2 separate regions of the Homo sapiens genome follow, and region 1 is linked to region 2. Evidence: fine-mapped expression QTL. A gene starts in region 2. The other region holds a variant in brackets. All regions are shown on one strand. Distances are between the middles of the regions.

Evidence for each region. PIP is the estimated chance that this variant, and not a neighbour inherited with it, causes the effect.
Region 1: its variant is fine-mapped to the expression of GJD2-DT in tibial artery (GTEx, PIP above 0.99).

Annotation. Positions count from the first base shown.
Region 1 is chr15:34,796,061-34,806,227 of GRCh38, forward strand. All of the region lies in intron 2 of GJD2-DT (GJD2 divergent transcript), which reads left to right. LOC107984776 (a long non-coding RNA gene) reads left to right here and starts at 9,017. Exons shown (of 3, transcript XR_001751477.1): 1 at 9,017-9,216; 2 at 9,645-9,696; 3 at 10,123-10,167. RefSeq lists an enhancer at 636-1,107. The variant T/C (reference allele first, on the strand shown) is at 4,971.
Region 2 is chr15:34,750,221-34,760,264 of GRCh38, forward strand. It overlaps GJD2-DT (GJD2 divergent transcript), which reads left to right and starts at 4,864. Exons shown (of 3, transcript NR_120329.1): 1 at 4,864-5,001. GJD2 (gap junction protein delta 2) reads right to left here and starts at 4,778. Exons shown (of 2, transcript NM_020660.3): 1 at 4,198-4,778; 2 at 812-3,152. The coding sequence starts at 4,268. The coding sequence ends at 2,258.

The DNA of each region.
Region 1 (10,167 bases), 46 kb after region 2:
GCAGCAGCACATCTGAGTGGCTGCAAAAGGGGCACCCAGGACAGGGCACCCTTCTGGTCTAGTCCCCGCCAGCCTGAATGGCTTTACTCAGAGAGCTGGTGCTGGGCTCATCTAGGTCAGAAAGCTGAGATTAACCAAGGCCACCCGAGTTCCAACCCATGCATGGATCAGGGTCTGGCCAGGGAAGAGTCAGAAAAGGGTTTCTGTGAGAGCTTGGCCAAGTCTTGCTGGAGAAGGGACCAGGTTTACCCCAGCCCAGTTATTGGGTAGCCCTCATCCATGCTGCAGGGTTTTGCTCAAATTCAGACTCTGGTCTTCAGGCCAGAAAAGGATCCCCTGCTGCCAAAGTGAATAAAGGAACAAATGCCAAAAGTAGCTTGCCCACTTGATGGTGGGGAGATGAGCATCTTTAAACTGGGGGCAGAGGCCCTCACTCCAGGTGGAGACAAGACTGCAAAGGCAAATACTTTGATGGAGAACATAGCAACAACTTAAACTATAGGACTACACCAATCCTTGCTACTCAAAGTGCAGCCCATGGACAAGCAGTATTGTCATAACCTGGAAATGAGCTAGAAATGCAATCTCAAGAGCCATCCCAATCCGCTTTTCAGCAAGATCCTCATTTGCTTGGTATGTACATTAAAGTGTGAGAAGCATTGGCATAAATGACAGATATCATCTCCTCTGTGGAAAACAGATTTTGCAGGATCTTGAACTTTTGAGAAGGAAAAAGAAAAATGACATGAAATGAGGAGAGGGAGAAGGAAGAGGGAGATGTAAGAAGGACACAGATCACTAGTTTGCCCTGGGGTGCCCTGCATTCTCAGTTCTTGACTGGAGCTTTGATTTTTAATGCTTGTGTTTTTCCTCCAGTTCACACCAGTTAAAAATAGAAAACTGGGCACTGGCATCTCTCTCTAGAGTGGTCTTGGGCTGATATGCTGAGGAGGCCTGCTGATTAGATACTTGTCCCGACTGGGGAATGCTGGGCCCTCCCCTCTGAACTCCCCAACCATGTTTGGGTTGGTCTGGAGAAGAAACGCGATGGGCAGCTGTGTGGTGGGGTCGGGTAAGAGACCTGGCTGAGATTACTCTGTGCAGCACAGCAGGCATTTTACAGTGAAAATGTTTATTGACAGGATGCCAAGAGTAGAACTGCCTTGTCTCGTGAAAATATAGAAAAACCAAGGAAAAGGAGAAATGGGACTGGTGTCAGAGCCAGACAGAACTGGGCTCAAATGCTGCCTTTATCACTTACTAACTATCTGTTTGGTCTTGAGCAAGACACTTAACCTTCCCAAGCCCCAAGTTTTCCCTCTCAAAAGTGATACCATAACACTTGTTGCAGAAGTTATTGTGTATTGTAATAGTTAGAAACAAATGCTGTAAGTAATATGGAAGATACAAAGCAAATTGTATGTGTAATAATGATACTTTTGGAGGCAGTAGTAGCTCTGCCTTTTAAAGAATCAGGTTGATTTCATTCTTCATTGATTCAGCAAATCTTTGCAGGACAAGAACTGTGCTAGTTAAGGATTCAGTGATAAATAAAACAGAGCAGGACTCATCCTCCGTGGCAATTACAGAAAAGTCAGACAGCTATGGCACAAACTGGGAGGGAAGAAGAGGTATCAGCAGGATAGTCACAAAAAGGGAATGGAGGTCTGAAAGAGTTGCCGAGAAAGCCTTCCCCAGGATGTGTTGTTCGTTTTTAAAAGTAGAGCAGAACTGAAGTTTATGAACATTTGTGTGAGAGAAAGAGTTTCTGCATGGGAGTGGCTGGTGAGAGACTCCCACTATGACTGCTATAGGTGCAAAGACTCTCAGGAATGGAAAACCATGATTATTGACCTTTGTCCTTCGCACAGGCTTCGGGGATCTAGGAGGCCACTTCCAGCCCCCTCATCTCAGGACCATTGGCTCTAGTGGGAGGCCAGTAGAACAGTGCAGGACACAACAGCAGTTTTGTGAAACAATATTCACCCTTAAAATGTTTGAAAAATGTGTTTCCTATTCCGCTCAATTTCATTGCCTAACACTCAAAACAGTGTATTTTCATATGTGTTATGTGTGTAGCAAGAACGAATGCTTATTTCTTAAAAATTTATGATTGTTTGATATTTACTATTTGTATTACCACTCAATTTCCACATTTTATTTATTTTATTTTTATGTATTTGTTTGTTTGCTTCAGACAGGGTCTCCCTCTGTTACCCAGGTATAATCAGGTGCGGTGGTATAATCAGGGCTCACTGCAGCCTCAACCTCCCAGGCTCAGGTGATCCTCCCACCTTAGCCGATTCTCCCACCTTAGCTGATCCTCCCATCTCAGCCTCCCAAACAGCTGGGACTGCAGGCACATGCCAACACACCCCGCTAATTTTTGTATTTTTTGAAGAGACGGGGTTTCACTATGTTGCCTAAGCTGGTCTCAAGCTCCTGGGCTCAACTGATCTGCCAGCCTCAGCTTCCCAAAGTGCTGGGATTACAGGCATGAGCCACCAAGCCTGGCCTTGATTTCCACATTTTAAAAACTTTGAACCCTATTTTATATATTTTAAAATGTAAACCAACAGGAAAGTAAGATTTCATGACTGAGTTTTATTTAAACTACTTTTTACAGATCCACTTAATTTGAAAATTGAGATTGGCTTTTTAAGCATATAAAAATGACATCTCAAAAAAAATTACAAAACAAAGAAGAAAAAAATGACATCTCCTCTTTGGTACATTCTAGATTTTTTTTTAATTATGGTAAAATATGCATATATCAAATTTACTATCTTAACCATTTAGGAATACAGAGTTCAAAAGTGTTCAGTGCATTCACATTGTTGTGCAGTCTCCGAGTGTTATTTTTTTTATTGCTAATTGTGACTAAATTGTGCTTCCTGCAGTTTGAGAAAGACCAGTTTATATCCTATGAGGTAGGGAACCACTGAGCCTTTTTTGTCTGAGGTCACACAGGTGAGCAAATGGTGGAGTGACAATTCAAACTCAGGCACCTGATTTTAAGCCCTATTCCCAACCACCACCAAAAATACCTTCACATATACTTGGTCTGCTATTTCTCAGAATGTGATGCTAGAACCGCCTCCAGCCAAATTACCTAGACTGCCTCATAGAAATTCAGATTCCTGGGTTCCACCCTGGAAGATTGAATCTGCATTTTAAATGAGCCCTCACTGTTCTCCCCTAGGTATGTTTCTCTGCAGAGTGAAAAACTTAGCCGCACTGCTTGGCTGTTCTCTCTGAAGCCCACAGAGCTTTGCTGGATGCTGCCCAAGCTGCCAGTGCTGGCTGGAGTCCAGGTTGGCTGACCTTGTAGATCCCAGTGGGATGGCAGAGCTGGGGCGGGTCCCCAGGGCTCTTGAGGGCCAGTGAAGCCCTTTTCGGCGTGGACTGGCCATGAGGGAGACGTGCAGGGCAAACTGAAGGAACAGAAGGTGGGACAGTTCCCACTGCCCTTGCCTCGGGGGAAGTCTGTTTCATCCACCATCTGCTGGGATCTGGAAGGGAGCGGCCCAGCCTCCTCCCCGGCACTGGGGGATTAGCAGTCACTTATCTCAGCTGTTCCTCCGTTCGGAGGTGTCACAGTATTTACAGAGAAGCCAGAAACAGACAGAGCCACACTTAATTCCTCCCCATGAGCCCTCCCCATCACCTCCTGTCCCTCCTGCATTCTGTGTGCCGGGGGAGGGAGAGCCTCGGTTTAGATCAGACCGGGGGGAGGATCTAGCCTTCCTAAACATTCCTATTTTCTTTGCCTACACATTTGTTCACCCCCACTGCCCTCTGGCTGGATCTGGGTTTCAGTTTTCATTGAAAGGAGAAAGTGACATGATGGTGAGGGCTGCAGGCCCCCACACATCCTGGTGTTCAGAGTCCAATATATGAGGCATGGCTAATCTTCACAGCATACTTCCCCGTGTTTTATATGCAACCACCAAGGGGATTAACCCAGGCAGAGGGTATTTGGCCCCAGATGGATTCTGTTCTTGGCAGGTCCCAGCCGTCACTGTCTTCTAACATGATAGGACCAACTGTAATGAACCATTTAATAAGACTCAGAAAAGGAGGGCAGGGGAAGGAGGAAGGGGCACGGAGGAGGGAGAACATAGAAGGGAACATAGAAGGAAGATGCTTCTCTGGATCCTGGTGACTACATTTTTTTTTTTTTTTTTTTTTGAGACAGAGCGTTGCTCTGTCCCCCAGGCTGGAGTGCAGTGGGGCAATCTCAGCTCACTGCAAGTTTCAAGTTATTCTCCTGCCTCAGCCTCTTGAGTAGCTGGGAATACAGGCACACATCACCATTCCTGGCTAATTTTTGTATTTTTAGTAGAGACAGGGTTTCACCATGTTGGCCAGGCTGGTCTCGAGCTCCTGGCCTCAAGTGATCTGCCCGCCTCGGCCTCCCAAAGTGTTGAGATTAAAGGCGTGAGCCACCGCACTCAGACTAAAGACCACATTTTCAGTCTCCTCTATCCTGGTGACGTCAGCGGGAAAGAATCAGAAAGGATTTCTAGATAGCCTTTTAAATTCCTTAAAAGGAGTTTGTCTGTCAAGAATGAAATGCTCACGCCCATGAGTTTCTGCTTGGAAGTTACTACTCTTAGCTCAGATTTGACTTGCTCTGCACACTGGCAGTGACTTTATTTATGGAGTTTCAGTGTTTCAAGTATTACCTGGAGCAAATCCATCTTTCCTGGAGAGCCCAACCATGACAATGTCTGATCTAAGCCTGACCTGCAAGCAGAAGGGCTGGGAGACGTGCATCAGTAGTAAGAACTGTGAGCTCAGAAAACCTCCTGCAGGCTGCTTTCACTCACCTGCATCATGTAGAGCCCATCTCTTCCCCAGCAAAGATCAAGCACTCATCTGACACACAATATTGGTGATGGTAACACTAATTGTTGACATTTCCTGAGAATTTCCTAGAGGCTGGCACTATCCTGCCACTTTCTATG[T/C]GTATATGGTCAACATGGTCAGTTTCTAGATGAAGCTGGGCAGACTTCCAGCTGTAGAATCCATTTTTACCCAACTGTTCTCTTTGTTTTGTTTTGTTTTTAATTTTTTTGTACATAGAGACATGGTTTCCCCATGTTGCCCAGGCTGGTCTCTAACCCCTGAGCTCAGGTGATCCAGTTGCCTTGGCCTCCCAAAGTGCGGGATTATAGGTGTGAGCCACCGTGCCCAGCCCCAACTGTTCTTTGATATGATGTCACCAGCCTATGTTGAGGGGCTGTGTAAGAGTAGGTCACCATCTCTATTGTAAGGACATTGTAAGGATGTTTTCATGGATGTTCATCATAGGACACAATCTTCTTTATAAGCCTCCTTGGGAGAATTCCCTGTCTGACTCTGGTACCAAGGGCAGAAGCACATCTACCAACGAACTAGTTTGTTTTGATTTGTGTTCCCTGAATCTAGTGACCAGCTAAGGTTTCACTTTTGGTGTTGGCTAAGAAAAATTTTAGAGAACCACATATGTGGCCCAATTGTTACAGCGATTATAGGTCATTTTGATCTGTTTTACACACCCATCTCTATTTTTTATTTTTATTTTTCTTCTAATTTAGTTTTCATTTTTCTCTCTATCTTTGTAAGCTGGCATAAATCTTGTGTGGGACAAAACAAAGAATGAATGAATAGATAGATAAGAATGAATTTGTAGGAACAATGGAGAACATTTGAAATTACAATTGGGATGGCCATTTTACAAGTAGCTAAGAGTCTGCCATGACTTGCGTATATATCTGTAGTTTTTTCCATCCCAGTGAAAGCATAGGCCAGGTGTGGTGGCTCATGCATGTAATCCCAGCACTTTTGGAGGCCGAGGCAAGTGGATTGCTTGAATCCAGGAGTTCAAGACCAGTCTGGGCAACATGACGAAACCCCCATCTCTACAAAAATACATAATTAGCTGGGCATGGTGGTGCACACCTGTGGTCCTAGCTACTCCAGAGGCTAAGGTGGAAGGATTGCTTGAGCCTGGGATGTCCAGGCTGCAGTGAGCTGTGATCACACCACTGCACTGCAGCCTGAGCGGCAAAGCAAGACCTTGACTCAAACATAAATAAATAAATAAATAGCATATATTGCTTAATGAAAAAAACCCATTACCTGTAAACTATAATGTCATTTTGATTTTCCTCTTAACATGGTAAGTACAACTGGCAATTTAAAACAATATTTCCCTCATTATTAATATAGTATGTGTTTATTGTGATAAACTAGGAAAAAACAGTAAAGCTCTATATTGTAACCTCCCTAAAATAAAACTAAATGTGGCATAAAATTCATAAGGCCTTGGCTTCCATATCTACTTATAGCCGCTGGGCTGAGAAAAGACAAACAGCCTCCTATTCTGGTAGTCTGCAAGAATGTCCACTTGTTCTTCAAAGAGAGACATGCAATGCAAAGAATTTGCATTAAAAGCATTTCTTGGTCCTACTATTATAAAGTAAATTATCTCTAGTCAACAGCTGGAACTAAAGAATGTCAAACTCAGAGCAGGCTCTGCCCTTGGGATTATACCATCTTTATATATCCCACTTATGTATTTCAGAGGGTGGGTTCTGGTTTCCAAGTCAGCTGTTGAACTGTTTCAAACTTGTAGTTTAAAAACTGGTCTACCACAAACATAAAACTAAACCATATGAATATACTGCTGAAGGCATTGTCTTCATGTGGAGGGTCTGAAAGCACTTCTTTTAGAAAAACATCTTTACAGCTATTTTATTATCAAAATTGTTCTTAATTTAGACTACAGATAACCAGTTCATCTTAACCACCTCTTATTTAATTTCATAAATTAAAAATAATAACAAAGGCTTTATCTAAAGCTAGCACTGTGTACCTACAGAACTTGTACGTACAAAATAAAAACAACTGAAAAGCCTTCTTAAGCCGTTACTTGTGCGTGAATGCTGGCACCCATCCAAATAAGTAGGCCTATGGCTTATGATATTCCAGAGAGAAGAGCCAGCCTTTGAGGACTGAGAAGAGAAAATAATCAGCCATTAAACTATGATATGGGCCTTGAAAAGTGATCAGAACAACCTTGAGCATGACCCAAAGGACAGAACAGAGTAAAATACTACATCATCAAAGAAATACCTGCAATGGTTGGGTAACCCTAAGGTGAGAACATTCTTTAAGGATGAACAAGCAAAGTGCTCTCTATTCAGTTAATGTTTTTGCAAACTCTCTTTAAACATGCAATTTTCCAGTGAGAGATTCTAGTGAATTTAATATTACAGCACACTACTTATATTTTTCACAAAAGATTCACACTGGGCTCATTCCTTCACCAATGTATGTAGCCATCTACTTTCTGTGTTCCCTGTTCAGTGATGATAAGGAGTCCGGAGCCCCTCTCTTGAAGTTTCAGAGGGAGAGCCCTGAAGCTTTAATTTGAGCTGATCTCTTAGATTGGCATAATTGACCATTTCTGGTGTCCACCCAAGGATCGCATCACTAAGCTGCTGACTCAAGGTAGTGGGCGAGGCGGAGGAGAGAGGGATGAGGGTAGAAAGAGGGTGATGGGGGAGTGGCCTACAACACCTCTTCCCTCTCATTTCTTTCTGAATAGAAAACTGAAAATGCTAAATCAGAATCACAGACAAATGCAGTTACAAGGGGCTCAGGCTTTGCTTTCATACCTGGCAGTGCAAAACTTTATACTGAGTTTATTTTGTCCAACTCAGGGATGTGGGCCCCAAAAATGATAAGAGAAAAGGCAAAAGTGATCCCATGAGGCAGAAAGCCTTATGTATTAGAACAGCTCCAGTGTTCTGGGTCCTTCTAAAAGTGTGCACACCTCAGGCCTAAATATCAAACCCTAAAATATTATTCCATAATTTACATCTTTATGTAGTCAGAGTTTTCCTTGATCTATCTGGAAACTAACTCTTATTTTGACTAAATGTGAAAGGTTAAATGTTAAATTTGCCTACTTTCTCACCTGGAATATGTTTGTGTGTATCTGAGAGAATCAGTCATGAATGAAAGGTTTATTGTTTCTGTTTCCTACATTTATTTCATTGCAATGTCAAAAGGATAGATTGAGTACATCTTTCCAAATCATCTGATTCAGTCACAATCACATAAACAGGGTTTAAAAACCTTAAGGCTGGTATCAGGCAGCAGCCAAGAATGAACAGATGTTCTTTGTTTTCTCAAATATTTGTGAATGTAAATGGTCCAGATAACATCTCATAATCACCACACTGAAAGTGTGAAATGAATATACCTTTACAAAGAAATGTGGCATGATAGGAAAATATAATGCTCTATTCTTAGAGCATGTGTCATTTCCAATGAAGTATCTTTTACCCTCCTGGTCTCCCTGAACGCTATTTAAATTCTCAGCATTAACCAAGAAGACATTCAGATCTCAGCGACTGATTTTGAACAAAGGGTTTCAAATAATTTCTTTGGGAGATTCAAGGCTTGCTGTCACCGTAGAAATTCAAATGTGTCCCAAGTGTCTCATTTTGCAAACAACTTAGCAAAATATTACAGATGAATAAACTCTTTGATTTGAAACATCATACTTTCTAACTAAATATAATCAAAATAGTGATGCTTATCATACAAATGTAGATATGAACAAAAGGAAAAAGCCAATTCGGTGGCTAAATTGGTGTTCCCTTGAAATCAAGATGTGGTTTATTCAATTTCTTCATTCAATCAATATTTATTGAATGCCTTCTCTATGCAAGACATTGTGGCAGGAACAGTGGGAAATATTAGAGTGCATGAGATGGTGTATGCACACCAAGAGAATGTTTTCATTCTATTAGATAGTACCTAAACCCAGCAAGCCACCACAAAGATCTGTGCTAAGCAGCACGAAAGGGTATTAAACAAAGCCTGAGGGGCTGGAAAAAGGGAGCGAGCCCTTCTCATGAGGGTCCTTGGGCAAGACTTCATAGTTTATGGATTTTGAGCTGAGTCTATGAGGGCTAGTTGATGAATAGATTATGTTTGTAAGCTTTTGCATTATTTTCTGCCTGAATCATGTTTATGAGGAAGACAAAAATATGTTGTTCCCTCTTAAAATAATTACAGTTCGTTCAACAGATACTCACTGAATGCTCACTGTGTACCACATGCTGTACTTCCAAGAAGACAACTTCCGGGTTCCAAGTAAAGTCAGAAATAAGCACACTGCTGAAGGTGCACTGAACTGGTCCTTTCAGATGAAAAGTATGTGAAATGTGTGTGTTTCTGTGTATATTTTAAAGTGTAGCCACATCTTATTCTTTACGAATTGAAAGCTGGAACAGACCCAAGAGAAAGCTCTTCCCCACTTTTCCTAAGTCATTTGCCATGATTGGTTTTCAAAGTCTTTAGGGAGTGAATGATTTCAAGTTCTACTGTTTACATAAATCTTTGACTACTGAAGCCTATTTCAAAAAAAATCTAACCAAACAAACCAAAACTCTTAACCATGGGAAGAGTACTGAAGATTAAGGGAGGAAGGAATTATTACAGTTTCCATTTTTTACTTAGGTATTATTTGAATATTTTTCCAGAAGCATATATTAATTTTATCTATTAAAGAAAGAAAGAAAACAATCTAATGTAACATCCTCTTGCTGAAAGTCAAGCATACTTTTGTCTCATTTGCCCAGGGGAGATGTCTACGTAATAACGTCCATATACTTTAAGAAAGACATTGCATCTGTGAGTATTAAGGCTCTTTTTCACCAGCACTGTTATTTTTAAAACTGTCTTCATATTTGGTCTATAATCTAACTCTGTTCCAAATTTTTTTAGATGTAATAAAATTTCTTTTAGCCAAATTGGTTAGGAATTTGGTTTCTAGTTAAGTTGAAAACTACCATTGTTCAGAGAATTAAGTTCATCTTGATATGCCCACACAAAACTACAGAGAAGATCATTTAATTTTCTTTGATACTGTGAAGTTATTTCCAGAATATTCTCCTTTGGAAAACTAATTTTTGTCACACACTATAGCATAACACATGTGACAGATGTAGACTGTTGGGCCAAACAAAATTATAATATCCTGGAAAGCTGCTTAAATGAATTCACTGTTAGTATCAACATACCTGTTATCTATTTATTTCTTTTAAAAATCAAATATAGATCATGCTTCTGCTTCCAGTCAAGATGGAGCACTCCATTTCTTGC
Region 2 (10,044 bases):
ATGTAGGCAGAAAATACCAAAAATGAGAGTAAAATGTTGTGGCTAAAAAGTAATGTCTTATGACATGTAAGTAAAGGATCAATCTCCTTTGAAGAACCCACTAAGAAATGATTGATTAAAAGTCTAGAATTGTGCTGTGTAATAGAGTAGCAACTAACCGTACTTGGCTATTTAAATTAATTAAATAAAATTAGAAATTCTGTTCTTGATTTGCACTAGCCATGTTTTAAGAGCTCAGTAGTCACATGTGGCTAGTTGTTGCCACATTGGGCAGCATGAATAGAAGAAATCCTCATCATTACAGAAAGTTCTACTGGCAGCGCTGGTCTAGAGAGATCTGCTTGACTACCGGGTTAGCATTGTGTTAAGCATCAGACCCCGAAGAGATCATGGAAAGAACAGCATGCTCGCCAAGTGTAATGATTAATCCATGGCAGGAAAAAAAAATGTGGTGGAAAGAAAAAAAAATTCCACTCCTGGAATGGGCTAATATGATGTAGTATTGACATTTGTGTTATAAGAAATAGACAAGTAAGGAAAGTTTTGAGCTGAAATGGAAAGGAGCTAATAAATCATACGATTTGAATATCTCACCACTCCCTTATGAACATTCATAAAGCATTGATTTGGAAGAAAATATCCATGAAAAGTCTCTCTTCATCTGTTAGTGGCTGATTGTATTTTATTGGTCATTCCTCAAATACTATTCAACCATGACTTACTTCCTACCCCCAATGTTTTTCTGTTATAACATTTTTGATCATGCATTTAAATAAATATACCCCCCATCAAAAAGTGCAGACTCTTCCCATTTTACAAAAAAAGGCAAGAACTTTATTTTAAACAAATCCTTAGTTGTGTGTTACACCATGTCCATATCTAAATCAAAAATGATAATGATAATTCAAAGGGAACAAAGGGCTTCATAAAAGCACATTACCCAGATGTTTCTCTTGGCCAATATTTTAACTAAATACACAGTGGATATGAAAGGTACAGTATGGCACTTAAATAAATAAGAGCAAAAAGAAGAAAACATATTGACAGTCCAATGCAATAGGTTTTTGAACCTTTGGTATATGTCTCAAATAAGTCACCGTAAACACACGTTAGCCAATAGTGTTTAGTTGCAGGTCTTTTAAGCCAGTAATTTTGTATGTGTGTCTGTATATGTGTGTGTGTTTCAAAGAGTAACTGAAAAAATAATAAATCAGGATTGACATGGGATGATTAAGGTCTCTGGTGTAAGCACACAGGTAAATTCAAATCATGGCAAAATGACCGTGCAGCTGTGTTGCACAACAAAACTATGTAAGAAAATGAGTGAGATACACCAGTTACAAATGCTGTGGCTCAGCTAGACACTCTTGATATTAGCCAAAAAAAATCTTTTTAATGTTAACCAAAGTCCACAAGCTGGAAGGCAGAAATATCCTGAAGCTCGTAACCGTGTGCCTAACTGTGCAACAACAATCTCACAAAAGTGTTGTAGTTGCATATTGCAATTCCCTCCCTCCCACCCATCCCCCATCCCTAGTAAACAGCACCAGTGCAGTTTGAGTTAGAAAACTGGAAATATTGAGACATTCCTAAGGTTTTCATCACGACTAAGGGCCAGTCAGATGGGGCTCTAATGAAAACCTCTGCCATGGCCGTTCTCCAATAAGCACCCCATGTAATTCCCTCTAAGTTTGCAAATAAAACATATTAGGTCTAATGTAAGGCCAGATTCTGGAAAAAAAAAAAAAAAAAAAAAAAAAGCTGGCATGCTATTTTGGATTGAGGGAAAGGGGCATGCTGGTGGGGGAGATACATGAAGAGTGCCTCAAGGATGTTTGTCCCATGGCTCAGGATAAAGGGATGGGTTGAGATAGGTCACAAATTTTATATCAATGAAGTACTCAACTCACACCATTCACCAGAATAAAGAGCTCAGCAGGGCTAAGTCCTACTTGGTAGCTGTGCAAGTTCAGTGTTATCAGGATCAGGCTAGGCCATAAACAGAAAGGGACCAAAGAAGTCTAATTGATCCATTTCATCACTCTACCCAATCGTCTCTGTAGAACCAATTAGGTGATATGTGAAAATGGGTCCACTTTTCCTCCTTTCCCATTGGTGCAAAATCTTCTTTTATCCAGTCTTATCCTACATCTTAATGGTGAGGGTCACATAAATGAGGGTGGATACAGCCACGTCTGAGCAGTCATCTGCCTTGGGGCTCCTTGCCATCCCCCAGACCTTCATGAAACCTGCCCTCTCACACATAGGCAGAGTCACTGGACTGAGTCCTGCCAAAATTGGGAACACTGACCCTTGGCAGGTCCTTGTTACGAATCTCATAGATTGACTTTCTCTTGGCCTGAGCCCCTCGCACAGCCAGCTTGATCTTGCGCCATCCCAGGTGGTTGAGTTCAGCCAGGTTGAGCACAACACAGATGCCACTTACAGCAAACATGAACACTAGAAAGACAGTCTTCTCAGTTGGCCGGGACACATAACATTCCACCTCCTTGATGCAGGGGTAGCGGTTACACTCATACAACCCTGGGACACTAAAGCCATAGAGAAAATATTGGCCAACCAGGAACCCAATTTCCAGGGCATTTCGGAACACCACTTGGATAATGTAGAAGCGGGAGATGCCTTCCTGCCTTCTGAGCTTGGATTTTGATGCAGTGCGTAGACCTGATGGGTGTGGAGTCAGCTCCTTAACCTCTAAACAATCTGGCTCTGTCTCCTTACTGGTGTTCTCTGTGTTCTGCAGCACCCCATTCACAATAGCATTTTGCAACTTCTTATCTTCTCGTTTGCCCCCACCACTGCCCCCACCCCCAGTTCCTCCAGGACCTCCTATGGACTCAGGGGGGTCTCTGTCCAGGGCTAGGAAGACTGTAGAGTAGCGGCGTTCTCGCTGCTTGGCGGACTGGTGCACAGAGTAGGTGATGAAGCAAAGACTGGGGGTACACACCATTATGATCTGGAAGACCCAGTAACGTATGTGGGAGATGGGGAAGGCGCGGTCATAGCAGGCCTGGTTACAGCCGGGCTGCAGGGTGTTGCACACAAACATGGTCTGCTCATCATCGTACACCGTCTCCCCCACAATGGCCACAATGAGGATCCGGAAGATCACCACCACAGTCAACAGGATCCTGAACGGAGGAAGAGGGAGGGAGAGAGGTTCTCACGGGCTGCGTCACTGACAGGAAACCCCTGCTCCTCCCTTCCCTTTGCTGGTGTTTACCAGTCTTTTGACTGGGGAGCTGTCCATCCCGGGCTGGTACTGAACTAGGAATCTGGGAAAGCTTTTTGTCTCTTCCTTTTCTGCTGAGTGCTGGTAGGCTGGGAATATTTCATATTATAGAGATCCCAGGTACACACATCTCCATACACTGGACATAGTCTACTTGCAACAGATAGATTTCATCTCTCTATATAGAATGTATAGAAACACAAAACACACCTTCACTCTGGATATGGCAAATGCACACAGAATACCTTTACAGATGGTGCATGCTTCGAGGTCTACACACAGGGTGTGTAAATAACTACTCCATGTGTATATTTAGTTTATTCTCAACATGAATATTAAATTTAATGCTTTATATAAGCAGATGGCTATGAATATATATTCATATATATTGAACTCATATATATATAAAGCTAGGTAGATAGAGACATAGATATAGATACAGACCCAAAAATGGCAATTGGGTGTGTAGGCTCGGTAAGTTTACACCGCCAAATAAGTTTGGTTTAGTAATTATTTGTTGAGAAAAGAGGCATCTGCTCTGAAGAGCAAATCCATCTCCCCATTTGCCCTTTTCTGTCCAAATGCAATCCTGCCTTCTTTGTAGATTCTATTTAGGGAACCAAATGGAGATTGGCTCTGACTCTGGAGAGTGGAGGGACCAAGACTGAGCCAGCGGCTCCTTTTCTGATGTGGGAAGAGTGAAGCCCCAGTGGTGCTTGATGGGGAAGGGATGGGCAGCTGGTTAGGAGTAGCTAGAGGAGGGGGGCATCGCGGGGCGTCGGGTAATCCCTCATCGCCGGGAACACCGGAGCCTTGACCTAGGACGATGGGGAGGAGGCAGAGGACGGACTGGGGATTGGAGCGGGAGACTCAGTCCAGGTGTGAGAAGGGACTCCCGGGGGCCGCCCGACGGGGCCCCCTGACCGCCGGCTTGGCGCCCTTACCTCCCGATCATAGTGGAGTGCTGCTGCACCGCGGCTTCTAGCAGCCTCTCCAAGATGGTCCATTCCCCCATCGCTGTGCATCCGGAGGCAGCAGACAAAGACTGGGCAGCACCGGGCACGTTCCCGCTCCTGGCCCCTCCCCGGGCCGCACTTCCAGAATGGGAGTGAATTGCCTCCCAATTAAAGAAGCAATTTTTTAAAAAATCCTCGAATCCCCCTTTCCTTTTATTGTACTTAAAAGAGAAGAAATGGGGAAAGAAATCCAAGCGCGTCCCGACCGATGGGGCAGTTGGCGCGGTCTAGAGAGAGGGCACGAACCTCGGGCGCCGTCCGGGGTTCGGGTCTGGATCCCGCGGACGCCGGGACGAGGGGCGGGGCGGGGTGGCAGCCTGCAGGTCCTCCAGCGCTCGCCCGCCCAGGAGAAGTCTCAGCGCCGCTCTCCGCCGCAGGTTGGGGGCCAGGGGAGGGTCCGAACACCGGCTCTGTTCCTGCTACTTCAGCGGGCACCTGGCGCTCCGGCGCGGCAGCCTGCGAGGCCAGGGCCGAGCGCGCGGAGCCGAATGCTGGGCTCGGGGATCCGCGGCCGCCGCCTCTAATCCGCCCTTAAGTAGTCTCCGCCTGCGTCACGCCAGGTCGGCGGAGGGGAGCAGAGCGCGCCGTGCGGCTGTCGCTGCGCGTCGGAGCCCGAGGGGCCGGGGACGCGCGCGGGGGGAGAGGGGCAAGAGTCCTGGAGGCCCGGCGGGGAGCGGGGCGATTTCGAAAGGAAGGACTGCAGCGCCCCTCGGGGCTTCTCGGGGAGCCCAGGTAACCTCACCTGACCGCCAGACCCAAGCAGGCGGAGGGGGAGCCGGGAGCGGACGCGTGGGTGAGTGGGGAGGGGAGTGAGTAGGTATCTTCTCTTCTCTCGGTGCATCCCTCACCTTTTCGCTTTTTGCCTCCTGGAGACAACTGAAATTCCTTCCCTAGATGGAGATGCTGGCTGAGGGAGGGCGAGTGGGGGCGACCACTTTTAAATCTCCCTTAGGGGACAGAGTGGCTGAGAGTGCTTCTGCAGAGTGGCTGCGGTTCGGTGCCTCTGTGGATCCGACAGTGAAGTGAGAAAGGCTTGATGGGAATCCATTTAGGCTGAAGGGTAAATGCAGGTGTGGAGCTGTCTCTCGGTATAGGGGTCAGGGCACACGAGCGCATCTAACAGGTGCCTCGCAAAGAGCAAGTGGGGTGGCCATGGTTAAAGGTCTCGCTTCCCCTTGCACTAACCCAGATGCTCGGCTCTTTTTAAATTATTGCTATTATTTTACTAATGGGAAGGGGGGGCGGGGTACTCGTCAGGTAAACTGTGATTTAATCTGAATTTAAGACCCAGTATTCTGCTAGCAGAAACAGAGCCACTCACAGCCTCGCCCTGCCCCCACTTGCCTTACTGGGTTTGGCTTTCTCCCCTCAACCAGCAGATCCCGGTTTTTAAAATTCACATTGTGTTGTCAGTTCTGTCTAGAGCAACTACTTAATTGGTTGCTGAAAAATTGAAACAACCTCACTAAGCTGCTAATTAGCCCAGGGGTCAGTATTAGGAGACACTGTAGCTGGCAGTGTTTGATGTAAATGTACCAAAAGTCCAATGGGAAAGTAATTGTCATCCTTTCGAAAACACGACCTTGAAAGGGTTGCTAACTTGTCCTAGGCATATAAAGGGACCTAGCCTTAATTATCCACAGGGATCATAGCACATATGTATATTACATAAGCCACACCATGGTGAGCCTTCACTTCTGGAACAACCGAGGTGGTTGGGTAGTTGGTGGCCCAGGGACTGGGAAGAAAGGTGCAGGGCATGGCCCTCAGTCCACTCACAGTGTACTTCTTCATAAAATGATGTTTAAACACACGGTCTAAGCTTCGCCGCCAGAAAGATCACTGAAATCCTCTGCTAGGGTTGACATCTTTACCCCAAGAAAGCAGCCTTTCACTGCAAAGGAGTAAAAGAGTCCACTAACAATGGAGAGAGGGATAAAGTGATTTATTAGTTTCCTTCTGAACACGGAGGAGGTTCAAGGGTGAGGACGAATGGATACCCTATTATCCAGTTAGCTTCCAGATGGAATGGTGATCCCCTAACCCAAACTTGGTGTGTTTTCCCAGGTTTCCCTTCTACTCCCCTTGGCCCTAGGTCCCTGTATTCCCTCCTTGTCTGGCAGACTCTCTTATAGTAAATGATCTTAGCCAAGAAGTGAATGAGTAAGTCCAAAGGGAAATCTGTTTAACATCTTTAAATGTCCCAAAATAGGCTGCACAACTCAAAATTGTCATTTTATGTGTTGGCTTTCCCAAACCGTTAAAGATTATGATCCTAAGAACATAGACTGCAGGAAATGCAATTATCAGACACTACGCTATGACTGAATTGTTGATCATTTGTGTATTATTTTGAAATATACTTTAATATGCCATATAGATTCCACATATAAACATGTGCAAACAACATAGGTGTATAAGTGCACAAAGACGCATATATATAGAACCTATATTTTAAAACTCATCAGTTGGACTGTGTAGGCTACTTTTAAATAAAAATCTTAGTCTCACCACCACACTTCAGAAATAACCATTTTTATTTTTAATAACCACTCATAAATTTCACACTTACTACATTGTACTTCCTCCTTCAAGTCCAGTCAACTCCATTTTCAATTAATAATTTGTTCCGATAAACAAATGTGCATTAAATGTGAAATGGTTCTCTGTGGATCCGGGCATCTCTCAGTTTCCTCAGGGCATTGTATCTTCTTGATAGATTCTGATTATCTCAACTCTCCTCTGATTGAAAACCCCCGTTTAAGGCAGCTGGGAAGTTCTTTCCATTACATCTTATTTAAAAGCCATTCTGTTTATTAAAATAATAGTTTTGGATGAGAAACAATGAAATTCGTAGAATGCTCATAGAATAACCTTTGCTGCACAACAGACTGTCTGGGGATCTTCATTAAAAAGACAGATGCTGCGATCCCATCCCAATTCTGCTAAATTGAAATCTATGGAAACAAGATTGAGGTAGCTGTGTTATTAACGGGTTCTCATCCACAGCTCCAATAACAATAAAAACCTGAGAACTTTTAGTTCCATGACTATTAGGGCAGGAGTGAATCCTAGGGATGAGGAAATCTATCATCCATTTGTTTCATAGTGTTAAAACTGACCCAAAGCTTAGCTAGCTTGCCTAAAATCATATGGGTAGCAAAGGAAAAGCTATGAAGAATGTGGTATTCAGAATCCTAGAGAAGATCAAAATTATTTAAAAGTATGAAAAAAATGTGATATTTGAAGAAGAAAAGGGGAATTAAAGTGGGAACATGCTCACCTCCAGACATTTAGAGGAAAAAAATACCTAGATTGTTGATCTGCAAATCTATGTCTTACCAAATAGTATTTTCCATTAACAGAGCAGGGAAATATTATCCACATCTAGTGGGAAAAACTGCAAAGGCATGGAGCAAAGGGTGTTGTTGAATGTTATAATACAGGAGAGAATGTAGAGCTACTAACAATGATTCCATTTACTACATAGGGGTGTCTGAATTTGTTCTTATCCTTATATGTGCTCAAAATTTCATTCTCTTCTCAACCACAGACTCCCAGGTGAACCTTTCAGCCTTGCAGCTTCAAATGTTTTGTAAATGAAACCTCATAGGAGCTTTGTATATGTTGTAAGAATGAACATTAATCTACTGACCTCTATTCTACTGGACTGTAAATTCCTAGAGATCAGAGAGCATGCTCATATGTCATGGTTCTTTTCATAGCGTCTTTAAACTCAAGCATTTGTTGAAAGTGAAGGTCAGCTATTCTGGCTCTCTATTCCCCTCAGCCTAGCAGAACTGCACTTTTCCTGAGGAGAAGTGGGTCCTGGGTGTCCTCCACAATCACAAGTAATATTCAAGTCAGAAAGGAGAAAGGGGCTCCCTTTGCGAAGTGAAAGTTCCTACACACTTAGGATAGCCTGGACCCCTCAGTAGAAAGCCTTCTTACTAACCACCAGCCCCCTGCCCTCACTTCCATTATTCTCTCAATACTGCAGTCCAGACACCCGCTGAACTGACCGGGGGAATGCAGCTGAGCAGGTAAGGCTTGGGCTGCAGCATCAGAGAGGCAACCCCAGCTAGCTGAGCTCAGTCCTGGATTGGGAAGGACCAGCATCTGTAGCCTCCTGAAATTTGTGTGGCATGGGAGGGACTGCATTCGATTTGGAATTGATCTCTGTGTTGAACTCTCCTACATTTCATTCACAAATAGCTAGGATTAACTGAGCTTTATCTCTCCCAGTGGCCTACGTGCATCTGTTTCCTAATGAAACCATCAACTTGTCTTCTTAAGGGGCAACCCCAACCTGTCTTGGGAGACTCAAAAGAACCTAAGTGGCAGATGGAATCTATTTTTATTTGCTGCAAAGTGGTTTTTCTCTTTTTTTCTTTCATGTGTCCTTCCCTATGTATAAGCCTCAGTTCAAATGTTTAGGAAAACACTTGATTTTGCTGTTCAGACAAAATTTATGAAGTAATGTTTCCAAAGAGAGTAAAGCTGTCCGATGTACCAATCTTAAGTAGCCCTAAATATAGTGGCTTGCTTTGTGGTCTAAGATTCTCCAGAATCTGCTATCTTCAAAATTATTTTGCCATCTCATGGACCCAAATGCCAAATCATGTCTTAGGCCCAAGAGATTATGTATCCAAATGGTAAGGAAATCTAAAGTCTTCTGCCTGCTAGTTCTTTGAATAAAAGAGTATATAGCCTTTAAAAAAATTACATATACAAATTCCCCCATTCCCCGACTACCTCGTATATAGAGAATATACCTATGTGTAATAATATCTCAGGGATTAATGTAATATGGTATTGTGGCCAAAGCAGATGTGTGAAATCACAGCAAATAAATTAACACTGCATTAAGAATCAAATCATTCCTGCTGACACATAATCTTTCACTTTTATATCAAGTCGTGATTCCCATTCACATCAGGAGCTTCCCAGGGGGGCTCATTAAACCTGCACAAAGAGATTTCTTTGAAGTCAGTGCTATTCCCATGAATAGCATTCAGCTACAGTGCAGAAGAGCCTGCCCGCCTGGTGTCTAGGCACCCTTCCCTTCACTCTCATTGTTGCTGTCCAGCCAGAGGCCCAGCAAGGCAGGCTATAGCAGGGCTTCCTGCTGAGTGCCTTTCTAGTCTGTATGAAAGAGATGAGGAAATTGCAGGGGAAATGCACATCGGTAGGACCTGCCCTTGACAGAATTGTTAAGCTGGGAGAATATATTTCTTTTCCCACATGTGCCCTTCTGCTCTTCTTCCACATCAGAGTGTACTGCTACAAGAGCTAAAAGTTGGTTCCATCCCGGTGCCAAGATTATTAAGAGGAATTGGTATTCATCCCAAAAGAACCTTCTCTAAGATCTGAAGCTTACATTCAAGGTTCCTTCTTGCGCTCATAATTGTACGTGGACTCCCCTGGTTGCCTGATATCTTGACTTCCTGAAATTCAGCTAATTTCTGTTTTTGCTGGGACTCTGGGGGCTCAGGCATTACTCAGCACAGAGGCTTTTGTATTTTTCTAGTTCTTGTCAACTACTTGCCTTCTGATCAACTCTTAGGCACCAACATTCAAATCTAGCGTGAAGAGCCTCTTGTTTCTGCAGCTGAGGTGAGGCTGGAAAGGAGCTACCACTCACTTATTGCTCATCTCATGCTCAGCCAAGGGTTTGTCACGAGCATGGACTCCAACTTGCCCATGTGGTCTGGCTCAGTCATCTCTGACCTTCAGATTCTCACACTGTCTCTTTTTGGTATATACTCATCATTC